7 linked regions of the Homo sapiens genome follow. The protein of the gene in region 1 interacts with the protein of each later gene in a pairwise test. Each region holds a gene or a part of one and is shown on either strand. Other genes may lie near its edges.

Region 1 (3,500 bases):
TTAGCCTGAAGCTGTTGGCAAGTCAGATACCACATGCCAAGTAACGTGCCACAGTAGTATTGCTTGGATCTTAGAAAATTATGGGATAATAATTACAGCAACTTTGCTCTAGGACCTTTGGAAGGAGTTCCCTCTGTTTCAAAGAAGTACAGCTAAAAATGGCTTTTCCTCCTCCTTACTCAGATATAGGAGGTATAGTAATGGTGAGGCTCTGGAGTCGGACTGCATGGGTTTGATTCCTAGTTTACTAGTTTACGCTTAGTAGCTCTGTGACCTACAGCTTTAATCATGCTGAGTCCCAGTTTCCTAATTTGTAAAATGCAATAATATCTGTATTACAGAATTGTTGTAAGGTTAAATAACATATGCAAAGTTCTTAGAGTAGTGGTTGGCACATAGAAAATGCTCAATAAAAATAAGTTTCGTTACAATTGAAAGATTAATAAAAAGAAAACAGACCTTTCACCTAAATATCAGGTGACTTCCCCTTTTCTCAAATTCCCAAGAAAAAAAATATAGTAGCATAAGATTTTATTTTTTTTTGAGATAGGATCTTGCTCTGTCTCCCAGGCTGGAGTGTAGTAGTGTAATCATGGTTCACAGCAGCCTGAAACTTCTGGGCTGAAGCAATCCTCCCGCCTCAGCCTCCCAAGTAGCTGGGACTACAGGTGTGCACCACCACATCCGGCTAATTTTTGTATTTTTTGTAGAGACAGGGTTTCACCATGTTGCCCAGGCTGGTATCCAACTCCTGAGCTCAAGCAATCTGCCTGCCTTCGCCTCCCAAAGTGCTGGGATTACAGGTGTAAGCCACTGTGCCTGGCCAGCATAGGATTTAAAATTTTAAAGTTGTTTCCTTGGCAAATGTCAATATATACTAACCTCCCGTGTAATAGCCATAAGCATAAAGAACTCGTCCAACAATCCAGGCCAAGCCCAGGCCAGAAGCTATACGCTAAGAAAAAAGGGCTACATTAGTATTTGCATGAAAGAAACAAGCAAACCTTTTTTAACACCTAGGGTTGATTACACAATATGTTAGCAAAAAGTTAACAATTTGATGATTTGGCCAACTACTCCCCACGCAAATTAGGTAGAATTAAGTTAGTTTCAGCGGGAAAATAAAATATCTGTGATTCTTCTATGAATGGCTTGGCTTGTGGACCTGGGAGATGAGTATTGGCCTTCTCCTAGACAGGTGGGATAGAAGGAATCCCCCCACTTGCCCTGGGCATCTTGGGGAACTTGTGTCAGAGCTCAAGAGAAGGACATGTGGGCCAGCCGGTCTCAGGGCAGGCCAGAAAAGAGAACTGCCCCAAAGTCAGGACTAGGGGAAATGCCGTTTTCTCAAATGGGCCTCTGAGCATGAGATTGACTGAAGACTCAGCTGCTGTTCTATGTGAAGTCAGTCACTGGCAGGGCTGGGCTCAGGTGGTTCTGCAGGCTACACTGGGGGTGTAGCTCCACTAGAAAGAAGGGGAGCGCTTCTCCCAGAATACATGGTCTTCGAGGGAAAAGTCTCCCTGTTCCCAATGTCCTTGAGAAGAGAGAATAAAAACTTAGATGAAAAATCCATCCCTTTGGCTGTCATGCTGGGGTGACTTCCTTGGTTAAAATAAGCAAGGAGAGAACACAGAAGACAGCATGTGAGAAGGCCGCCTTCCCCAGTGTCTTTCCCACTCAGCAGTGCTACTGTTAGGGATAAGGTTACTGCATCAGGGTTTTTGTTTGTTTGAGTTGATTTTGGGTAACATTAAATGTCAACAGGAGGGTGAAACAAATGAAAATAACACCAGTCCCTCAAGTCACGATATAGCAGCTCTAGTCTCTGCCAGGCCCTTCTTTACTATAATGTTGCCTAATGACTGGCAACCTAGGAACAATTGTTAGGTGCTTGTCCCCAAACTAGCTCTTATTTTTCAGAACTACCCATAAGGAATGGGATCCAGGGATGTGTGATAGGAATGGGGATGGAGTGGGGACACCAAATGAGGACTAATCTAGAGACCTGAGCTATTCAGATCAGCTAGTCTAGTCACTTGCTAGGAATGGGGATCTTTAGAGGCACCAGAAAGATACATTTTCTAAGAGATACAAGAGCAGTAGATGTTTCTTTGAAAAAAATGCAGGCCTTCAAGGTCATAAGCAGTAGATATGCCATTCTGGCAGCTTTTTAACAAAAGTACAAGGCATTCAGGATGAACCAGATGGTTAGGAAAGGCTTAGAACCAGAAGTCTGAAGGGCCACTCTGGTCAGAACTTGGTTTCAGGAGATAATCTGTCCTCAGAAAAGGGGAACACTTCTGTCTAAGACAAGACCCAAATGGCAATTAATTAGAGGCTGATAAACTTGCTTTATTTAGATATGTTTAAGTGCAGACTAAATCTCCATCCCACAGGGCTATCTATACTGCAGAGGCCTGCAAGTCCCCAGTGACCTGCCTCATCACCCCTCTGCCCTCTGTTGCTGCCCCTCTCCTGGCTCCATTGGCTTCTCACTGCTCACCAAACAAACCAGACAGGTGCCTGCCTCAGGCCTTGCTTGTCTTCTGGCTGGAGGTTGGGGAAACTCGTGCAGCACCTGCTCCCTCACCTCCTTTTATACTTGCTTAACTATCATCTCAGCAAAGCCCCCCTCCCTGACCACCCTATTCAAAATTATCCCACTCCACATCCCCTTTCCACCTTCCCCACTTTGTTTTCTTCTCTGCACTCACCACCTCCTAACACATGATGTAATTTACTTAGGTTGCTTCTTCTCTGTGACCACCCCACACCCCACAACAAAAAGGCAAGCTCTATGAAACCAGGGGTCTTTGTCTGCTTTGATCACTGCTTTACCCCAGGTGGTGAGTGAAAGTTTGTTGTGTGAATGAATTACTATAACAAATGAACTCTTATAGACATGAAACTTAGAACCAGACAGACCTGAGTTCAAATTCTAATCCTTCTACTCTGTAGCTATTTGACCTTGTGAAGTTTAAATAGTATATGAGAGGCTTTTCCTTATCTGTAAAATATGAGGAAAATCCCATCTCCTTTAAAGAACTCTGTAAGAAATAATTGAATAAAATCCTTTTAAATATGCAGTGCCTAGACACTGAAGATATTCATTAAATGTTTATTTCCTTCTTCTGTCCCTGATAATAGCTCAGTGAACTACTATCCAAATAGATGAACACCTCCTGGAAAACTTACCGGGTGGTAAACACCTCCAACAGCTAGAAAAAATAAGAAGGGAGGATACACTTCCAACCTGGAATTGACAGAAAGAAACTTTTAAAAAGTGCCCTTTTTAAGTATGCCTGTGTAGAATTATGAATTTTTTTTTTTTTTTTTTTGAGACGGAGTGTCTCTGTCACCCAGGCTGGAATGCAGTGGCATGATCTCAGCTCACTGCAACCTCCGCCTCCCGGGTTCAAGTAATTCTCATGCCTCAGCTTCCTGAGTAGCTGGGATTACAGGTGCGTGCCACCATGCCTGGCTAAGTTTTGTAGAGA
Region 2 (3,500 bases), on another chromosome or scaffold:
AAAATAAGCCAAAACAAATATACCCTTAGATAGGTGTCTATAATATTCCAGCAAAGGGATTGGGATAGGAAATTCCTACCCATCCCTGTTTTTGCTTTGGATGAAAACAGTCTTAAGAGGTTTCAATTGATGGAAAAGATTAGTATACATCATTTCATTGGCCAGACGTGGTGGCGTCTGACTGAAATCCCAGAACTTTGAGAGCCCCAGGCAGGCGGATCATGAGGTCAAGAGATCAAGACCAGCCTGGCCAACATGGTGAAACCTCGTCTCTACTAAAAGTACAGAAATTAGCTGAATGTGGTGGTGCACACCTGTAGTCCAGCTACTCTGGAGGCTGAGGCAGGAGAACTGCTTGAACCTGGGAGGCGGAGGTTGCAGTGAGCCGAGATTGCGCCACTGCACTCAGCCTGGCAACACAGCAAGATTCCTTCTCAAAAAAAAAAAAAAAAATTAATATACATCACTTTGGCTGGGCACAGTTGCTCACGCCTGTAATCCCAGAACTTTGGGAGGCTGAGGCGGGTGGAACATGAAGTCAGGAGTTCAAGACCAGCCTAGTCAAGATGGTGAAACCCTGTGTCTACTAAAAATACAAGAATTAGCTGGGTGTGGTGGCAGGCGCCTGTAATCCCAGCTACTTGGGAGGCTGTGCCAGAGAATTGCTTGAACCTGGGAGGTGGAGGTTGCCTGGGTGGCAGAGCCAGACTTTGTCTGTGTGTGTGTGTGTGTGTGTGTGTGTACACACATATATGCACACACATCATTTCATCAACTGATGAATATTGAGCTGTAGAGAAGAACGAAGGATGTGTGTATTTATTTAAAAGCCTGCAACCTTTGGTAGCAGTTATTCTGGAAATTTGTAACATCTATGTCCTTGTACAACTGTACCCTTAAATACAAGAATGTTCCTTGGAGCATTGTTTGTAATAGAGAAAAGCTAGAATTAAAAAAAAACACACACACAACAGAACTGTGGCTGTGGGTGCTGATAGGAAAGGTCTCCAGAATATGTGAAAAAAGCAAAATGCAGAACCATTTTTCTGGTGAGAATCTCACTTGTGGAAAATAAGCTGAGAAGATATATATACGTTTTATATATAACTAGCTTTATATATGTACCTGTATTACCTAGATATGTATATAATTTTTGGAAAGATGCACACCAGACTCTTAGCTGATCACTTTTAGGAATGAAATTGGCAAACTGAGGAAGGAAGAATTTCATTTAATATGCTTTCATTTTTATATTCTTTTTAAAGTTGTTAATTCTTTCTAAGGGCTTATAAAACATCAAAATTTTAGCATGAGGATTCTGCAGGTACTGACTTGTAAAAAATTTAGTTGTTGGGGAGTTACCATTTTCTGTGGCTTTTCTGCTTATTTGCAAATGAATTAGGTAATTTCCCGAATCATAAACACTTCTAGACCACAATATTGCAATGTACTTTTTTTACCCCTATCATTGTGACCTGACTTACCCATGATGCAGCTTCTGATTAGTTTAAAATGAACATAAAATAATAAAAATGCTCAATGCGAAGTAAGTACTTAGATTGTGGAATAGTAATTTTGGAAAAACTCAAGAATATTCTTGTATTAAATTTGACAGGTACCCTATTAAAGCACTCAAGTGAAAAAGTTCAACAGGCTTTAGAAAGCCTCACATTTGATTATTTTTATGTTACTTTGTGTCTTTCCTCACTTATCTAGAAGTTTCATCGTTCTATAGCAGTCCCCAAACACTTTATTTTTCTTAACTATCATCTTTGTTCTGGAGAAGTATGTTAAACTTTGAGTAAACTTGTCAATTATTTTCTCCCCTCTTTAGACATAGTCATCTAAATAATAGCAAATAACAGCTATTTGGCAGTATAGCAACCCCTAAGTTGTAGTTGTAGACTAAATCTTATAATTTTTTTTTTTTACCCTCTATCCTGATAGATTGGTAGGAAGGTTATTCTAAGGTTCTGTTCACCCAATTCCAGGTTGGGTTGAGGTGCTAGAGGTGGATACTGTGCCAGGATATTGGGGTGAAGGTGCAGACTAATCCTCAAGACATTTGCTATAGTGAGTATTGAAGTATCTTTTATTGTGGTCAGGATGGTGTTTCAGATGTGGCAACTTCCAGCCACATGACCATGTGGTGTTTCTATGCCAGGCTTAGGGCAGAGGCATCTGCAGGCTTGGCTCTGTACTTACCTACCAAGATACTGTACACAGCTATACTCCCTGTGTGGTTTTGCATGGGCTTTTCTAGATGCTTTTGTCAGGAAGCCCCAGTAGCACTACTCCCTTTCCCCATTTACACACATAAGTGCAAACATGCATACAACCTACTTTATTTAAACTAAGGAAATCTTTCTCACTTGTCGATAAGCCCCTCACTCTCTCCCTGTTCCACACAAACATTTTATCTGTACTCCAATCAACTCATTGTCTTTGCTGTGCATTCAAGACATATTGTGTTTATCCACACTCCTATCCCTGATTATATCTGTACACTGGTTTCTGTAAATATTGTGCAATGTAAAGTAGAAAAACAGGCTATTTCTTCTTTCTGCTTTGCCACATCCCTCTTCTGGAGAAATGAACACAGAGCCCATTAGCTCTTTAACAGGTGGGAGATGGGAGGAGGGAACTATCAGGAGATATAATTTACCACACTTTCTATTAATAATTCTTCTGAGTCTGTACTTTAACAGTTTTTTCAGTCTGTTACTGAGCTTCACAAGATTTACAAACAGTCCATTGCATGTACTTTTTACCTGCTTCTTGCTAAAATAAGACTGGTGGATAATTTGTATAGTCAGGAAATTTGATAATTCGTAAGTCATCTGCTAGGGTTCTCAACTCTTCCTGTATTCTTGAGGCATGGAACACACTCTCAGAAACCTGTTTTAAAGACGCAGTTTAAAAATGAGTCCACAAAGATTCTGATACGACCTCCTTGCTGCTCCTCTGTTCAAAAAGTACTACCTGACTGAATTTTTTTATTTTTTACAAATTTACTTAGTTCTATTTTGAATAGGTAGAATAGTCATATGGGTCAAAATTCAAAAAGTGTAAAAGAGTATAGACTGAAAAGGCTTACTCTTTTCTCCCAACCACTCTTTCCTCCCTCCTCAGAGAACCAATGTTAAATTCTTACATCCTTCCAGAAATTTTTTAAAATATCTAAGTACAATATACATTTCTTCATATATACAACATATGTATATATGTATGTGTATAATACATATTTTCCCCTTATTTATACAAATGCATAGAGCTGTTCTGAACTTTCAGTTTTTCAGCTCACCAGTATATTTTCAGGATCTTTCCATATCAGTACCTAAAGAGCTTCCTCATTCATTTTTATAGCTGCATAGTATTCTATTGTATGGATGTACTTAATTAACCAATCCTTTACCTTCATTACTGATAATTTAGGTTGTTTTCAATCTATGTTATTATGAACAAAGCTACAGAGAACAATCTTGTATATACATCATTTT
Region 3 (3,500 bases), on another chromosome or scaffold:
CAGGCCAATGCCGCGCCTTGCCCAGAGGGAGTCAGAGTGGGATTCAGGCCTCCTGCCTGCCAGCACAGGGGCTGAGGCCCCTCTGGTTCCCCAGGAGATCTCGGTCTGGCTCCAGAGAGTCTGAATGGTGAGTGGTATTGCACAGAAGCCACAGGCTGGGGCCCCAGCAGGCTGCACGCCCCAGCAGGGCGTGATGGAGTCAGGCCAGGATGGGATCACCTCCCCCACACACCTGCTGACAAAGGCCCATTCAAGACAGGACAGACAGCAGTCCCAGCAGCAGACACAGAAACCCAGAGCAGCTGCCAGGGCCAGGAACCCAGAAGCCAGGCCCACGCCACCCTGCCCACAGCCAGGCCACAGCACCAGGCAGCCCCCTTTGCTCTCTCTGCCTACCTCTTTAGAAGGACAGCTCTGGCCTGCATGTTTCAGCCTACAGGGCACTTTGCACAATTTCATATTGTCTCCCTTTTAGGGGTAGAAGTGGCATGAAGATGAACCCTGACCCACGGGCCTGGATACCCAGAAATGTGCCCTGCCTTTAGAGGAGGGGGCTGTTGACCTGACTCTGTCTCTGTTTCAGGAAACACATTATCCCCTCCCTCCCCTCAATGCATCCTCATACCCACAGAGCCAAGGCCTACACCCCTTCCCATGTAGGGCTGTCACCAGTGTATGCCCCCATCACACCATAGCTCCCTGGGAGCACAGGCACACTCTGGCCATCTCTGGATCCCTGGCACTGAGCACAGCAGCTGCTCAATAAATGTTGATGTGTGAATGAAAGGACGCTTCAGCATCATTATCCCTTTACATCAAATCCATTCTAAGCTCAGAACAACCAAAGGATCTGTAGGGAATTTTTCAGGCATTTAAAACTTTCTCGGTATCCTCCTTCCTCCATTGCCTCATTTCTAATCTCTGTGTCTCTGTCAAATCCCAACTACCAAAATGCTGTGAGGAATCAGCCTCTCTCCTTTGACTTCAGCTTTTAAGCATCTCTCAGACCTCAGATGGGGTCAAATTCTTAGTTTCTAGACTCTACCAAAGCAAGTGGGAGACTGAGGTGACGCACGGTAATAAAGGGATGTGCATCTTGGGAACGCGTGGTGTGCACCGGCGTATGGGAGACAGCCGGGAAGGGCGACTAGGTGTCTACACCTCCTGGTGATGAGGACTCTTCCCCATGCGTGTCACAGCACACACGCTGTTCACTGGGCTTTCTCCACGTGTCTGACACTGTGCCAGGCACCGTGGGGAGAACAGACCTGCCATTGAGAGGCGGTGCAGTGGAGCGGGCGGGGTGGGAGGCGGGGCGTGTCCCTCTGCAGCTAAAATGCAGGTGTGTGCTCTCAAGGAAGAACTGACAGGACATTCACGGTATATGAGTATGTTTATTGGGAATTTTAATGCCTGTTTATTGGGAATATGGAATAATTACTTGAAAGAATAAACACTTGGGAGGAGCCACGAAGGATGATATAACAATAATAATGCCATTCTAATAATCCTAATAATGTGTCATTACTATCATTATTACAGCAGCTGATATCTCCTGAGTGTTTACTCCATGCTAGGCAGCATGCTGAGCCCTTTACACAGCTCGCCTCATACTGTCCTCACACTCATTTGACAGGTAAGGAAACTGAGGTTTAGCAAAGTGAAGAAATCCAGGAAGCATCAGAATGCAGTTTAGAATCCAAGTTTGTGTGTCTACAAAGACTGCCACCCTCTACTCGGCACATTCCAGCAACGGCTTGAGCTCAGGCAGAGGGTGAGACAGTACCAGGCTTCGGATGACCATCTGGAGAAGGTGCCTGCAGAGGTGGCTGCAGCCAGGTCACGCTGAGCCTGGAGTGCCTACACCATGTACCTGTGCTTATTAATAGGCACTGGTGAGCCTGGGGAGGTTTTTGAGCAGAGGAGTGGCAAACCTGGACCTGAGCTGTAACATCAGTGGGTAAAATGGAATGGGCTGAGAGGGTGGACGTTCACAGGCCATCACCATGGTCTGAGAGACTGCAGCTCTTCGGGAGAGGTGACAGGGCGTGTGAGAATGTGTGAGCCACTGCCTCCCTGTCGGGTGTGGGAGATTATATATGTGTGAGGAAGGGAACGTGTGTGAGAGTGTAAGTGCACCCGTGATTGCATGGAGGGGCTCTTCCTATGGAGGAAGAAAGTCGCAGGGCCTCCTGGTAGGATGTGGACATGAGGTGGACAGTAGGGGAGAGGAAGGAACAGGACAAGCCCATTGATCTACCTGAGCAGGAGGGCTCCAGCAAAGGAGAAACCTCAGAAGCCCACAGGGCCTGCCTGACATATGAGGGGAACATTTATTAAAAGGATGAACGAGGGAGTTTGAAACCTTAGCCTCTGGTCTCTCAGTGTGGGCCTGGCTTTGTCCTCCAGCTGCGTGGGGGTCACTGTTATTCTAACTACACCCCTTCATCCTTGGCCCTCTCTGCCCACATCAGATATTCTGAGCTGGGGCAGCCCCATTCCCATGGCCCCAGCCTGGTCCGTGGGGGCCCAGCCCCTTTCCCAGGCTGTGTGCTCCCTCCCACATCTTTGTAACAAACATGTTCCTGCGCAGCCTACAAGCTGGCTTCATCCCTTCCCAGGTCGGGACCTCTCCCTCCCCGGATTCTGGAGCAGAGATGATGCTGCCAAATTGGTTCCATGCTTTTGTTTCGGCCGGAGATGTCCTGCCTCTCATCAGGGACGGTGTCAGAGCACTGTGTTCCCGACCGGCCCCTCTCGTTGCAACTCTCCAGCTGGCCAGGGGTTCTCCCTGCAGAAGATTTCATGGACCTCCAAAATGACAGCCCAGTCCTCTCCAGTTGTCTCTTCCAGAGAACAACTCTTTAAAGAACCCCCCCCAACCGCCGCCCGCCTCCAGTGTGCAGCCTGGTAGAAAAGGCCAGGTAGACCACAGCATCCAGGAGGAGGTGGCTCCCTCAGCCCTAAAGAAAAAAACTTGGTTTCAGCTTCTAGGGCACCTTCTGCCACACTGGGTGAAAAGGAAACTTTCTCCAGGGTAACCAGAGCCCAGCCCCTTCCTGCTCAGCTCAGCTCAGCTGCAGCCCTGTATTATGAAATAATGAGTACTATTTGGTACCTGGAGAGAAAAGGGATCTCTTTCAAGATTGTATAATCCACACAAATTTAGAGGAAGACATGCCTTGGAAATCATGAGTCTAAACCCCACTATTGACAGATGCGGAAACAAAGGTCTAAAATCCGAAAGGCTTTCAGTTGCTGAAGAGCAGTCCAAGCCATTTCTGGATTTCACCAGAAGCCCAGTTTGCATCCAAAGGGATATTTGTGCAATGAACGCATTTGCCTTTCGGTAGCACGGAAGCTCAGGGGGAGAGCTGGGGCTAGAACCCGGCCTTTCCACAGCAGGCTCCCTGCCTCCTTGGGGCTGTGCCTTTCTTGACTGGTTTGCTTCCCTTAGGGTGCTCAGAAGGTGATTTGTTCGAAGGTGAATATTGGGGGGC
Region 4 (3,024 bases), on another chromosome or scaffold:
CGAAAATCTACTAAACCTGAAATCTACTAAAAATACAAAAATTAGCTGGGTGTGGTGGCGGGCACCTGTAATCCCAGCTACTTGGGAGGCTGAAGCAGGAGAACTGCTTGAACCTGGGAGGTGGAGATTGCAGTGAGCCGAGATTTTGCCACTGCCCTCCAGCCTGAGTGACAAGAGTGAGACTCTGTCTCAAACAACAACAACAACAACAACAAATGCCTGAGACTGGGTAATTTATAAAGGAAAGAGGTTTATTTGATTCACAGTTCAGCATGGCTGGGGAGGCCTCAGGAAACTTACAATCATGGTGGAAGGTGAAGGGGAAGCAAGCCACTGTCTTCACAGAGTGGCAGGAAGAAGGCCAAGCGAAGGCAGGAAGAGCCCCTTAAAAAAACACCATATCTTGTGAAAACTCACTCACTATCACAAGAACAGCATGGGGGAAGCCGGCCCCATGATTCAATTACCTCCACCTGGTCTCTACCTAGACACGTGAGGATTATGGGGACACAATTCAAGGTGCGATTTGGGTAGGGACACAAACCCTAACCATATCACCGTTTCACAGAGGTCAAGTTTTCCTGGGCCTTCTACCTGGGCTGTGGTACCGTCACCTTATACCTGCTCGTAGATGAGGTGTTGCCAGGACCTGATGGTGTGGATGGAAGAGGCTAGCGTTTGGGGGGCTGGAGAACCCTAAACCAAAATCCTTATGTCCCCCAACACCCCCTAGGCCCCCCGATCCTGGTGATAAAGGCCACCAGGCTGGAGCCCCCACCCAAGCAGGGATGCCACTGAACTCATTAATCAGATGAGGATGTGGGTATGTCTGACTCTCTGCAAACCTTTCAGAATTGTGATTCTCTGCTGTTTGCCTGCCCTTGGCATATGCTCCAAACTGGGGCCCAGGATTCTGAGCTCCTGCCCGCCTCTTCCTCCCTCAGGACCTGGAGTTCAGGCCCCCAGCTCCTTCCTCCTTAAGCCCCAGGAGTTCTAACTCCCAAGTCCCCTCCTTCAGTAGAGACCCTAGACTTGGGGACTTCCTCTCCCAGAATGGAAGACTGCATAACCCACAGGAAAGCATGACACATCCCCAGCTGTCCCCTCCAGCCACATCTGCCCTCCCCCTTAATGTACACCCTAGCCTGATTGGCTTCCTCCCACCTCAGGGCCCCCAAGCCTCTCTCTCTCACCTCTTCCAGGAAGCCCCGACTTGGTGTTGAAGGTTCCATGGGTGGGAGTTGTAGAATCTGTGACAGAGGCAAGTACTAAACCACCGCCCAAACCACTGATGATCTGACACCCTCAGTGCCCTCCCCCATCACACACTAAGCGGGGAACTGGACCCCAGGGAGGGGAGGGAGGACGTTGCCTGTGCAATCCAGGAAGGGAGGGTATGTGAAAAGCTACCGGGAACTGTGTGAAACCAAACCAGCCTCATGTGACAAAGCGCAGGACCCCTCACTGCCCCAACTGCTTGCTGTTCTCTCTTTCTTGGGCTCTAAGGACCCAGGAGTCTGGGTGCACAGCCTCCTTCTCTCTGAGATTCAAGAGTCTGATCAGCAGCCTCTTCCTCCTCCAGGACCCAGAAGCCCTGAGCTTATCCCCATGGAGCTCTGCCGGTCCCTGGCCCTGCTGGGGGGCTCCCTGGGCCTGATGTTCTGCCTGATTGCTTTGAGCACCGATTTCTGGTTTGAGGCTGTGGGTCCCACCCACTCAGCTCACTCGGGCCTCTGGCCAACAGGGCATGGGGACATCATATCAGGTAAGGGGAATGGGTGTCCTACAGAGGGGTTGCCAGCGGGGATGGGTGCTCAGTGGTCTTCTCCCGATCAGGCTACATCCACGTGACGCAGACCTTCAGCATTATGGCTGTTCTGTGGGCCCTGGTGTCCGTGAGCTTCCTGGTCCTGTCCTGCTTCCCCTCACTGTTCCCCCCAGGCCACGGCCCGCTTGTCTCAACCACCGCAGCCTTTGCTGCAGGTAAGGACTCTGGACTGGACTGGGGCATCGCGAGCCAGCGAATTCCTGCCGAGGAGCTGAGCCATCTCTCTTGTCCTTGTCCCCAGCCATCTCCATGGTGGTGGCCATGGCGGTGTACACCAGCGAGCGGTGGGACCAGCCTCCACACCCCCAGATCCAGACCTTCTTCTCCTGGTCCTTCTACCTGGGCTGGGTCTCAGCTATCCTCTTGCTCTGTACAGGTGACTATCCTGCCCACTGCCCTGGGGAGCTTTGGGAGGGTCCAGTTGGGGTCCCTGAGGACAGAGGGCAGGGGCAAGTGCTTAAACTCTTTCTGGCTCCCCAGGTGCCCTGAGCCTGGGTGCTCACTGTGGCGGTCCCCGTCCTGGCTATGAAACCTTGTGAGCAGAAGGCAAGAGCGGCAAGATGAGTTTTGAGCGTTGTATTCCAAAGGCCTCATCTGGAGCCTCGGGAAAGTCTGGTCCCACATCTGCCCGCCCTTCCAGCCCTTCCCCAGCCCCTCCTCTTGTTTCTTCATTCATTCAACAAAATTTGGCTGGAATCTGGTTATTTTGAGATTAATTCTGCCAAGACATAAGCCAACTGTCTGCCAGCTCCATGGTAGGAGCTGGGCACCAAGGGAAGGTGAGGGCCCACCAGGCCGACCAGCCTGCAGGGCGCTCCTGCCCAGTACGAGTGCCCGGCCCGTGTGGACACAGGCTCCAACCCGTGTCTATGTCTCCCCTTCTCCAGCACTTTTCTTCCTCCCTGTGTCTTTCTCCCTTTAGCTGGCTCTCTTTCCTTCTCTCTCCCTCTCTGATTTTGTCCCCCTTGCCAGAACTCAGCCCTTCCTTGCACTCAGTCAGTTCTCTTTGCACATTTCCCCATGCTGGGGACACTGGCACGGGTCAGACCCAGGCCCTGCCCAGCAGGGGCTCAGTCTGTGGGGTGGTGGGGAGGAGGCACTTACAGACCAGAAGCAGTTAATACAGGCCAGACAGCAGTCCCAGTGCAGGGAGAATGCCGGAAAAAGACTGACCATATTGTGGAGGGATGGAGACG
Region 5 (3,500 bases), on another chromosome or scaffold:
GGAGGTCAAGGCTATAGTGAGCTGTGATCACACCACTGCACTCCAGCCTGGGCGAAAGAGCAAGACCTTGTCTCAAAGAAAAAAAATAAAAGGGAACAGGCTTCTGAATTGAGTGTAGGCCAGTAAAATACTCCCTGGCCTCAAGTGTCCCATTAAATAGTTAACAGGGAGACCACTAGTTGTCTCATAACTGACAACTTGGGACAACTGAGGAATGAATGTCCAAAAGAGAAAAGGCCTCTCTGATTGTGTGGGAGCCAGGGCAGTTTCCCATTCATTTCCTTATTCAGTCCTTTCTGGGCAGCATCCCATTTTACAGCGAATACAACTGGCATAGAGAAGCAAAGCAACCCACTCCCAAACTATGCAGTATAAGGGCTGGGGTTGAAATTTGAAGGCAGGTCTTGGTGTTGTTAACTTTGCTCCATGGATGTAACCCCTAGTTCCTATTTTTGGTTTCTCATGGTCTGGTCGGGGAGGGAGAAAGAGGAATCAGCAGGTTATTAACTATTAACTATTTCCCCAGGCTCCTTCACCACCCAACATTCTACAAGAAAATCCACAAGAAACACCATGAGTGGACAGCTCCCATTGGCGTGATCTCTCTCTATGCCCACCCTATAGAGCATGCAGTGAGTAGAGCTCTATGCTCCCCAGAGCAAAGGGCAGATGGCCCCAACCACCTTCCTGAAGGTCTCCTGCAGAGAACTTAGACCACACCGGCCCTTTTTCTTCCCATTTAAAAATAGCTACCATTTATTGTCAGCCTTCCATATGCCAGGCTATGTTAAGTGCTAACACAGTTGTCTCATTTAATCATCCCAACAACTTTCTTTTTTTCTTTTTGAGACAGGGTCTTGCTCTGTCACCCAGGTTGGAGTGCAGTGGTGTGATCATAGCTCACTGCAGCCTCCAACCCCTGGGCTCATGTGATCCTCTAGCTTCAGTCTTCCAAATAGCTGAGACCACACGTGTGCACTTCCAAATAGCTGAGACCACACGTGTGCACCACCAAATCTGGAGTCTCACTGTGTCATCTTGGCTGGAGTGCAATGGCATGATCTCGGCTCACTGCAATCTCCCGCCTCCCGGGTTCAAGCCATTCTCCTGTCTCAGCCTCCTGAGTAGCTGGGATTACAGGCGTGTGCCACCACGCCTGGCTGATTTTTGTATTTTTAGTAGGACAGGTTTTCACCATGTTGGTCAGGCTGGTCTCAAACTCCTGACCTCGTGATCTACCCGCCTTGGCCTCCCAAAGTGTTGGGATTATAGGAGTGAGCCATCGCACCTGGCCACATCTGGCTAATTTTTAAATTTTTTTGTAGAGTCGGGATCCTGCTATTTTGCCCAGACTGGCTGGAACCCCTGGCCTCAAGCAATCCTCCCACCTCTGTCTCCCAAATTGCTGGGATTACAGGCATGAATCACCACACCTGGCTCCTCCAACAACCTTTTTAATCTTAATTTTGCTAACAAGAAAGTTGAGGCTCAAACTGCGTAATTTGTCCCAAGTTACAAAGGTGAATGCCTTCAACAAATCAAAGTCCCGAAACTCTCACCTTCTCCAGATCTGGGTCAAGGAAGTTTGCCTCTGGTACCACCTTGGGACTAAGTGTATACCCAACTAAGTCCCTTCATCTCCCTGGACCCTGCCTTCAATCATCCCTCCTCTTGCAGGTCTCCAACATGCTACCGGTGATAGTGGGCCCATTAGTAATGGGCTCCCACTTGTCCTCCATCACCATGTGGTTTTCCTTGGCCCTCATCATCACCACCATCTCCCACTGTGGCTACCACCTTCCCTTCCTGCCTTCGCCTGAATTCCACGACTACCACCATCTCAAGTAAGGACCTTCTCCCCACAATGGGTCCCTAGGCAACAACCATCACCCTCCCTCCTTAAGCTTCTGATAGCAGGCACTGGTATCTCAGTTTACATGTGAGTGCTAGTTGGGGAAGAGGTCTGATGGCTGGGAAAATAACCACACTGGGATGACCTTACTCTTTTCCTTCTGAAATTGGGTCCTCCTCCAACTGGGGGTTTTAAACCTTTATTTGGACTCTGGGCCCTTTGAATAAGCTCTGGACATTCTCTTTAGAAAAGTACATATATGCATAAAACTCCTGCAGGCAATCACAAGGAAGTCATGTATCTCTGAAAGCCCCAGACTTTTTCAAGTGTAGTCTACAAACCTCCTATACCAGAATCACCTGAGATGCTTGTTTAAAATATAGGCTCTTGAATTCCACTCCAAATATGCTGAACTAAGGTATCTGGGGGAGCAGGGCCTGGAAACCTGCATTTTAGTTAAGTGTTCCAGGGGATTCTGATGCTGGTGATCTCATACCTGAAGAAGCCTAGTTCTGCTAGAGATTCTCAGACTGTGGGCATCAATCACACAGCAAGCTTTTCAAAGGAGGACTCCAGATACGGCAAATTGCAGGTTTGGAGTGGCCCCCGGGAGATGCATTGGTAGCAACTCCCCAGCTTATTCTGATGCAGATGGTCAGGATGGTGGTGACAGGTGTGGGGTAGGAGGGCTGAGAAATGTGTGAGGCTGGCACAAATGAAATGGGATCTGCACGGAAGCCTCCAGCATGGGCACTGCAGTGCCGTCCTCTCTCTTCTAGGTTCAACCAGTGCTATGGGGTGCTGGGTGTGCTGGACCACCTCCATGGGACTGACACCATGTTCAAGCAGACCAAGGCCTACGAGAGACATGTCCTCCTGCTGGGCTTCACCCCGCTCTCTGAGAGCATCCCAGACTCCCCAAAGAGGATGGAGTGAGAGACAGCCTAAGTGTCATCCTGGCTGTCCCTCAGCCATGGGATGCAGACACGGCTTCCTGATTGCACCTAACAATTTGCCTCCTTCGGCCACACGCCCTAATGATGGCACCACCAGGGTAGAGGGAAGGTCGGCTTCCCGGAAAAGCAGGGCCAAGGATGAGGCTTTCTTCAAACTACTGCCCTTGATGTCCCTCAATGGGATCAGGAGTTAGCTTAAGAAAAAGGAAAACACAGCTCCCCAGACTGGAGGCTGGTCAGAGGGAGGAGACCCCTGGTCCTCTGCTGTGGAAGGAGAGGGGTTCAGCCCCAGATAACTCCTTTGTGGCCTGGGCAGGATGCAGAGAATGACAAGGCTGAAAGGAGGGGGACTGGAGGCTGCCTGGCTCCAGCGAGAGCTCCTTCTGGGACCAGAGGGTGGGACGGCCAGGTATCACTTTGCCCCTTCCTGCCCCAAAAGGCTTTCACATACCCGACTCAGGCCAGAGCCAAGACACCCTGGCAAATCATTATAGGTCTCAATTCATGACATACCAGATGCCAGTCGCCACTTCACCCAACACACACACAAACATACACACACCAAACACTCTGAGTGAGTGGTAAAGGCCCCGTTTTAACTCTGGCCCACCGCAAACAAAAGGTTTCCCTCTGTGGGGGAGAAAAAGAAATCCAGGAGCTCCTCCCTGGATTAAAACCAACGAGGTGCAGAC
Region 6 (2,968 bases), on another chromosome or scaffold:
GACCATGTCACCTGCTAGCCCCCGCCTGGCCGGCCCTTCTCCCCGCGCCCCCCGCCCCCCGCCCCTCCTAATTTCTCCCTCTCCCCTCCCTCCCCCGCCCCGCCCGTACCGCCGCCCTGGTCCAGCCGCTCCTGCGCGGTGCTGTCCTCGGGTCCTGGCGCGACGGTGGGGGCTGGGGGACCGGTGTCCACGGGCTCCCGGCCGGGGCTGGTGCTCTCCACGGGGCCTTCTCCCGACGGCAGCTCGGCCGGCTCGTTCCACAGCGTGGGCACGGGCTCCTGTGGAACATCGTCTGCAAAGCCAAGGAGAGGTGCTGGGGCCCCAGGTGACGGGGCCGACAGGGACGTCACCCCCCACCTCTAGGTTAAGCAAGTTGCCGGTAGCGCTGTGTGAGGGGTCTGGGCTCAGCGCTGCACTAGCCCTCACATTTCCCAGGCTAAGAAGCTGAAGCCAGTGCGTTGCTGCCTCCCATTGGGCAGGGCCGGTGGGTGGGCAGGAGGAGTGTCTGTTCAGTGTAAGGGAGGTGCCCCCCACAAAGCCCTTCTCTGCTTATAGGGTTGGGAGTTGGCAGGATTTGGGGTACCCAGGGACCAGAGAGCAGAAAGGAGACATTCTCAGTCCCACAGAAAGCACAGGCTGAGACGCCTGCATGATAACCCCCGCCCTGTATCCTCACCAGCCAGCCCACCCCAGTTGTCCTCCCCTGACCACCACTCCAACCCTGGGCCATCCATCCCCGGCAACCAGACAGGATGCCCCAGAAACGCTGGAAAGCTCAACATGGGGATGGTAGGTCGGCTCTTGGCCTCTCCAGCCCAGCCAGACCATCTGACATCACAGTGTTAGCAGGGCAGGCCTGCCCATGTCCTAATCTCTCTCTCTCTCTTTTTGAAACAGAGTCTTGCTCTGTGCCCAGGCTGGAGTGAAGTGGTACAATCTCGGCTCACTGCAGCCTCCGCCTCCCGGGTTCAAGCAAGCGATTCTCCTGCCTCAGCCTGCGGAGTAGCTGGGACTACAGGCACCTGCCACTACACCCAGCTAATTTTTGTATTTTTAGTTGAGACGGGGTTTGCCATGTTGGCCAGGCTGATTTTGAACTCCTGACCTCAGGTGATACACCCGTGTCGGCCTCCCAAAGTGCTGCGATTACAGGTGTGAGCCACTGCGGCCGGCCCCATGCTCTAATCTCAACTGGGATAGAGACTGTGATCCAGGGACACTCGACCCTCAAGCCGGTTCCCTGGATGAGCTTGGGGATGTCCCAACACCTCATCTCTTTGACTCCAGCTACTCTGTGGTGTGGGAACTGCTTTTATCCCCATTTCAGAGACAAGAAAGCCAAGGCTTGGGGATAAGGTGCCGTGGTGGTGAGCACAGGTGGGCTGAAGGCCTTGGACAGTTGCAGGAGCGGTTGTGCTGCCCAGAAACAGTGCAGGGAGGCTGCCGTTCTGTGAACAGACCCTGCCGGCCAGCCGGCGACCCTAGGGCACCTTTTGTCCCTGCGGGTTCCATCCCTGAGCGCTGGGGCAAGAGTCAAGCCAGACACTTGCCCTCCTCATAGGTTCACCAGCACCCAGAGAGGCGGATGCTCGAGAAGACACAGAGGTCCTTCCAGGGTTTTCTGGCCAGTTGTGTCCATCTAGGGCAAACCACGCAGAAACATCAGCCAACCCAGACTCAGGGTCAGTCTTAAAGTAAATGGGCCTTCCCAAATGTCAAAGTTAGGAAAAACAAAGAAAGGCCGAAAGGTTCCAGATCAGAGACTAAGGAGACAGCTCAATGTTCCTGGACGGGGAGGGACAGGCCTGTGATCGGAGACTCAGGTCCGTTGGTGAAGTTTGAACAGGGTGTGGCTTAGGACTGCCTCAGTGCTCACTTCCTGGTTTTGATAGCTGACTCTGGTGTGTTAAGAGAATGTCCTTGTTCTTAGGAAGAATTTAGGGGCAAAGGAACATGACTTCTGCAACTTACTCTCAAATGATTTCAGCATTCAGATAGAGGATTCAGCAATGTAGCAAAATGTTGGCAGTTGGCAAGACTAGGTGGATGGACTCCTGGAGTTCATTGGAGTATTTGTGCAACTTTTCTGTAAACTTCACATCTTTCCACAATAAAATGTTAGCAGGTCCCTGGCTTCTGGGCCTCTCTCAAGCCTGGAGAGGTCAGTTGCAAGGCTCAGCTCTGAGACAGCTTGCTGACCTTTCACCTGACCTGCCACATTCCCCAGGGCTGGCCCAAGGCAGAACCCCTTTCCAGAAAAGACCTCTGGCAGGAGGCCCCATGGGTGGAAGGCCCATTGGCCCCCAACTGGGGGAGGCTTCCCTCCCGAGGGGCCCAAGGCTGCACTGTAGCACTGATGTCTCTCTAGCCTCCCGCAAACCTTGAAGACCACCCTGAGAGGAGGGGAAGTGACCCAGCCAGGCCTCCCATGTCGCAGCCAGAAAGGCAGGGGTCTGCAGCCTTGCAGTCCCCATGGAAGGCCCCAGGCCCCTGGCGTGCTGCCTCAGGCTTCTGGGGGCTGGGCAGGTAAAAGGCCTGAGTGCGCCCACCGCCTGGCAGGCACCAGGGTCTAGGCTCACTGACTGCCTGAACATGTCCAAAGAAATGGACAAATGACACACCCAAGACAGACTGGCAGGTAGGCACCTCCCTGCATCTGGAGGCCGCGGCAGGGCTTCTGGGTACCAGGCCCAGCTGAGCCGGGTGGCATCTGCGGGAATCAGCCGAGGAGTGGCAGGCCTCCAGCCCCTGAGAAGGCAGGGCTCAGTACCCAGGCCAGCCCAGCAGGGGTGAGCTGCCACCCTTGACGGTACCCTCTGAGCAGGGCAGTGGGGAGCCCCACTCAGGCCCTGTCCCCATCTGTCCCCCGTGACCCAGCCTGTCTCTGCTGCGCCCACCACCAGACATACCTGCCCTGGCCTCCTCCCACTGTACACAGCCCCCTCCTGTCCAGCCAGGCCATGAAGCT
Region 7 (3,500 bases), on another chromosome or scaffold:
TCTCCCTCTCTCTCCCAGGATGGAGTACAGTGGTGTGATCACAGCTCACTGCAGCCTCAAAATCCTGGGCTCTACTGATTCCCCCACCTCAGCCTCCTGAGTAGCTGGGACTAGGGGCACAAATCAGTTCAGGATACTATGCAGTAACCCAGACCATGATGTTGGTGGGAGCAAGGGAGCAAGAATAAAACAAAGTTATAAATAAGCAGAAATTCTGACTAAGCATAAGATAGAAGACAGAAAAGAGAGAATAGACCAGACACAGTGGCTCATGCCTGTAATCCCAGCACTCTGGGGGGGGCCGAGGCACACAGATCATTTATGGTCAGAAGTTTGAGACAAGCCTGACCAACATGGTGAAATCCCCTCTCACTAAAAATTCAAAAAAAAAAAAACCACTAGCTGGGCATGGTGTCGCACGCCTGTAATCTCAGCCACCCAGGAGGCTGAGGCAGGAGAATCGCTTGAACTCAGGAGGCGGAGGTTACAGTGAGCTAAGATTGCACACTGCATTCCAACCTGGGCAACAGAGCCCAGGCTGAGACTCCATCTCAAAAAATAAAATAAAAATAAATAAATAAATAAATACAAATAAGAGAGAATTGAGGTCTAGACAGAGTGTTAAGAGTTAGGCTCCTTCTCGTCATGGCCTGGATGGCTGTTTTTTTTGTATGTTCTTTCAGCTTTCACTCATACTGTCTACTCAATGTTTCTTAAAATTTCATTTTTTTTTTAATAGAGATGGGCTTGCTATGTTGCCCAGGCAAGTCTCAAACTCCTCAAGTGATCCTCCTGCCTCACCTCCCAAACTGCTGGGATTGCGGGAGTGAGCCACCACACTTGGCCTCATTCAGCCTTTGCTTTTTTTTTTTTTTTTGAGACGGAGTCTCACTCTGTTGCCCAGGCTGGAGTGCAATGGCGTGATCTCAGCTCATTGCAACCTCCGCCTCCCGGGTTCAAGCAATTCTCCTGCCTCAGCCTCCCAAGTAGCTGGGACTACAGGCATGCGCCATGACACTCAGCTAATTTTTTTTTTTTTTGTATTTTTAGTAGAGACCGAGTTTCACCATGTTGGTCAGGCTGGTCTTGAACTCCTGACCACAGGTGATCCACCCACCTCAGCCTCCCAAAGTGCTGGGATTACAGGCGTGAGCCACAGCGCCCCGCAAGCCTTTGCTTTTTACTTCTCCTACTAAAACATTTTGATCAGGGCTTTAATTCGTCTTATCTACTAAGCTGTCCCCGTCTACCACACCCAGAACCACTCTGAGAATTCTTCCAAGACTTTCCATAATTAACCCTACTGAAGGCTGAACTCTTTGTGAGATCAGTTATGCCTCAAGACTACCAATTCAAATGTAAATGAATACCTGATAATAGATTGGGGTTATTATTTCATGCTTACTCAGTTAAAGTCATGCTTGTATATTTCACATTCTTGCAGACACAGAAATACAACTGAAAATATCTTACCAAGTTAGAGAATGCTGATCTAGCTTGATCCATCATTCTGAACTGCCACACAGAAGAACCTAGGTATCAGAATAGAGAATTATTGAGAAAGATACTACTGTATCAGATTAGTGAGCTTTCTATTACCAGGCTAAATGATACATTAAATTTTTAAAATACATTATCACTTTTCTAGAAAAGGTATTTAACCATAGTTTACATGACAACTAAATTAAGTGGGATCCTTTTTAAAGTTTGTTATATACATAATTCTTTTTTTTTCTTTTTGTAGAGACAAGGTCACCCTATGTTGCCCAGGCTGGTCTTGAACTCCTGGCCTCAAACAATCCTCCCACCTTGGCCTCCCAAAGTGCTGCAATTATAAGTACGAACCACTATGTTCTGAGTAGACAAAAGTGACACATACTGCTGGGCGGGGTGGCTCACACCTGTAATCCTAGCACTTTGGGAGGCTGAGATGGGTGGATCACCTGAGGTCAGGAGTTCAAGACCAGCCTGGCCAACATGGAGAAACCCTGTCTCTACTAAAAATACAAAAATTAGCCGGACGTGGTGGTGGGCGCCTGTAATCCCAGCCACTCGGGAGCCTGAGGCAGGAGAATGGCGTGAACCCAGGAGGTGGAGCTTGCAGTGAGCCAAGATCGCGCCACTGCACTCCAGCCTGGAAAACAAGAGCAAAACTCTGTCTCAAAAAAAAAAGAAAGTGACACATACAAAAAGACAAAATTAAGACTAAGGCAGACAAGACCAGTTATGCTACAAATACCACAAACCATCTCCAATGGGAAGGGGAAGAAATACTGATCCTGACTGAATGAATAGTTCCTACAAGTGATTCGATCTTTGACACAAGAAGAAACATGAAACACAGATTACGCTGTTTTACAGATGAAGAGGCCAGTTATTAGAGAAACTAAGTGGCCTGTTCAAGGCTGAAAATTGATAATCTAAGCGAAGTTAAATGGGTTACTGGGTTATAGAAATTGTGTTATCATCTCTGGAAATTTAAGACATTAACCTTAACTTTTGTCAAAGCAAAATACATCTCTGTAATCAAAGTCCTAAGTTAAGTTAAAGGCCTTAACTGAAATCTGAATTTTCCAGTTAATTTGGTTTGAGGGCATCTAGATACTTGAAAATGACATTATCCTGAGATTTGCAAAATGGACATTTATTGGATACCATTTTAAAGCTTTTCCTATATACGAGTACACTTAGGGCATATTAAACACACACGGCACAAAGCAAGCTGTGAGGTATACGCAAATTGTAAAGCAAAGGGTATTATAACTGGCATTAAGAAAAAGCTTTCTGGCCAGGCACGGTGGCTCATGCCTGTAATCCCAACACTTTGGGAGGCCGAGGCAGGTGGATCACGAGGTCAGGAGTTTGAGACCAGCCTGGCCAAGGTGGTGAAACCCCATCTCTACTAAAAATACAAAAATTAGATGGGCGTGGTGGTGGGCACCTGTAATCCCAGCTACTGGGGAGGCTGAGGCAGGAGAATCGCTTGAACCCGGGAGGTGGAGGTTGCAGTGAGCCGAGATGGCACCACTGCACTCCAGCCTGGGTGACGGAGTGAAACTCCATCTCAAAAAAATAATAAAAAAGAAAAAGAAAAAGCTCTAAAACCTATTACAAAAAATTCTTTTTAAATTCAAGCTTTAAAAACCAGTGTCCATATGCAATAGACCATATTCTTAGAAGCATAATCTTTTTTTTTTTCTTGAGACAGAGTTTCGGTCTTGTTGCCTAGGCTGGAGTGCAATGGCAGGATCTCGGCTCACTGCAACCTCCCCCTCCCGGGTTCAAGCCATTTTCCCACCTCAGACTCCGAGTAGCTGGGATTACAGGTGCCCACCACCATGCCCAGCTAATTTTTGTATTTTTAGTAGAGACGGGATTTTACCACGTTGGCCAGGCTGGTCTGGAACTTCTGACCTAGGGTGATCCACCCACCTGGCCTCCCAAAGTGCTAAGATTAGTTACTTGATAAGAACATCCCAAGGAAATCGAAGGCGTGAGCC

The links.
Region 2: the proteins of MGST3 (region 1) and ARL6IP6 interact in binary tests that used the Homo sapiens proteins (3 or more experiments, as listed by UniProt).
Region 3: the proteins of MGST3 (region 1) and FXYD6 interact in binary tests that used the Homo sapiens proteins (3 or more experiments, as listed by UniProt).
Region 4: the proteins of MGST3 (region 1) and NKG7 interact in binary tests that used the Homo sapiens proteins (3 or more experiments, as listed by UniProt).
Region 5: the proteins of MGST3 (region 1) and FAXDC2 interact in binary tests that used the Homo sapiens proteins (3 or more experiments, as listed by UniProt).
Region 6: the proteins of MGST3 (region 1) and SNORC interact in binary tests that used the Homo sapiens proteins (3 or more experiments, as listed by UniProt).
Region 7: the proteins of MGST3 (region 1) and TFRC interact in binary tests that used the Homo sapiens proteins (3 or more experiments, as listed by UniProt).

What each region holds. Positions count from the first base shown.
Region 1 is NC_000001.11:165,651,734-165,655,233, reverse strand, and holds part of MGST3 (glutathione S-transferase 3, mitochondrial), read right to left. Parts: intron 3,257-3,500; coding exon 3,199-3,256; intron 956-3,198; coding exon 883-955; intron 1-882. UniProt on the Homo sapiens protein: Displays both glutathione S-transferase and glutathione peroxidase activities toward oxyeicosanoids, as part of cellular detoxification as well as synthesis of bioactive metabolites.
Region 2 is NC_000002.12:152,728,620-152,732,119, forward strand, and holds part of ARL6IP6 (ADP-ribosylation factor-like protein 6-interacting protein 6), read left to right. Parts: intron 1-3,500.
Region 3 is NC_000011.10:117,870,159-117,873,658, forward strand, and holds part of FXYD6 (FXYD domain-containing ion transport regulator 6 precursor), read right to left. Parts: intron 1-3,500. UniProt on the Homo sapiens protein: Associates with and regulates the activity of the sodium/potassium-transporting ATPase (NKA) which catalyzes the hydrolysis of ATP coupled with the exchange of Na(+) and K(+) ions across the plasma membrane.
Region 4 is NC_000019.10:51,371,120-51,374,143, reverse strand, and holds NKG7 (protein NKG7), read left to right. Parts: upstream 1-1,489; 5' UTR 1,490-1,608; coding exon 1,609-1,765; exon of another isoform or gene 1,766-1,836; coding exon 1,837-1,983; coding exon of another isoform or gene 1,984-2,069; coding exon 2,070-2,204; intron 2,205-2,308; coding exon 2,309-2,367; 3' UTR 2,368-2,524; downstream 2,525-3,024.
Region 5 is NC_000005.10:154,819,604-154,823,103, reverse strand, and holds part of FAXDC2 (fatty acid hydroxylase domain-containing protein 2), read left to right. Parts: intron 1-526; coding exon 527-632; intron 633-1,677; coding exon 1,678-1,844; intron 1,845-2,631; coding exon 2,632-2,788; 3' UTR 2,789-3,500. UniProt on the Homo sapiens protein: Promotes megakaryocyte differentiation by enhancing ERK phosphorylation and up-regulating RUNX1 expression.
Region 6 is NC_000002.12:232,873,264-232,876,231, reverse strand, and holds part of SNORC (protein SNORC isoform c precursor), read right to left. Parts: intron 778-2,968; exon of another isoform or gene 735-777; coding exon of another isoform or gene 677-734; intron 639-676; exon of another isoform or gene 427-638; intron 401-426; exon of another isoform or gene 293-400; coding exon 110-292; intron 1-109. UniProt on the Homo sapiens protein: Plays a role in the regulation of chondrocyte maturation and postnatal endochondral ossification. May inhibit cell growth stimulation induced by FGF2.
Region 7 is NC_000003.12:196,075,591-196,079,090, forward strand, and holds part of TFRC (transferrin receptor protein 1), read right to left. Parts: intron 1,533-3,500; 5' UTR 1,510-1,532; coding exon 1,474-1,509; intron 1-1,473. UniProt on the Homo sapiens protein: Cellular uptake of iron occurs via receptor-mediated endocytosis of ligand-occupied transferrin receptor into specialized endosomes. Endosomal acidification leads to iron release.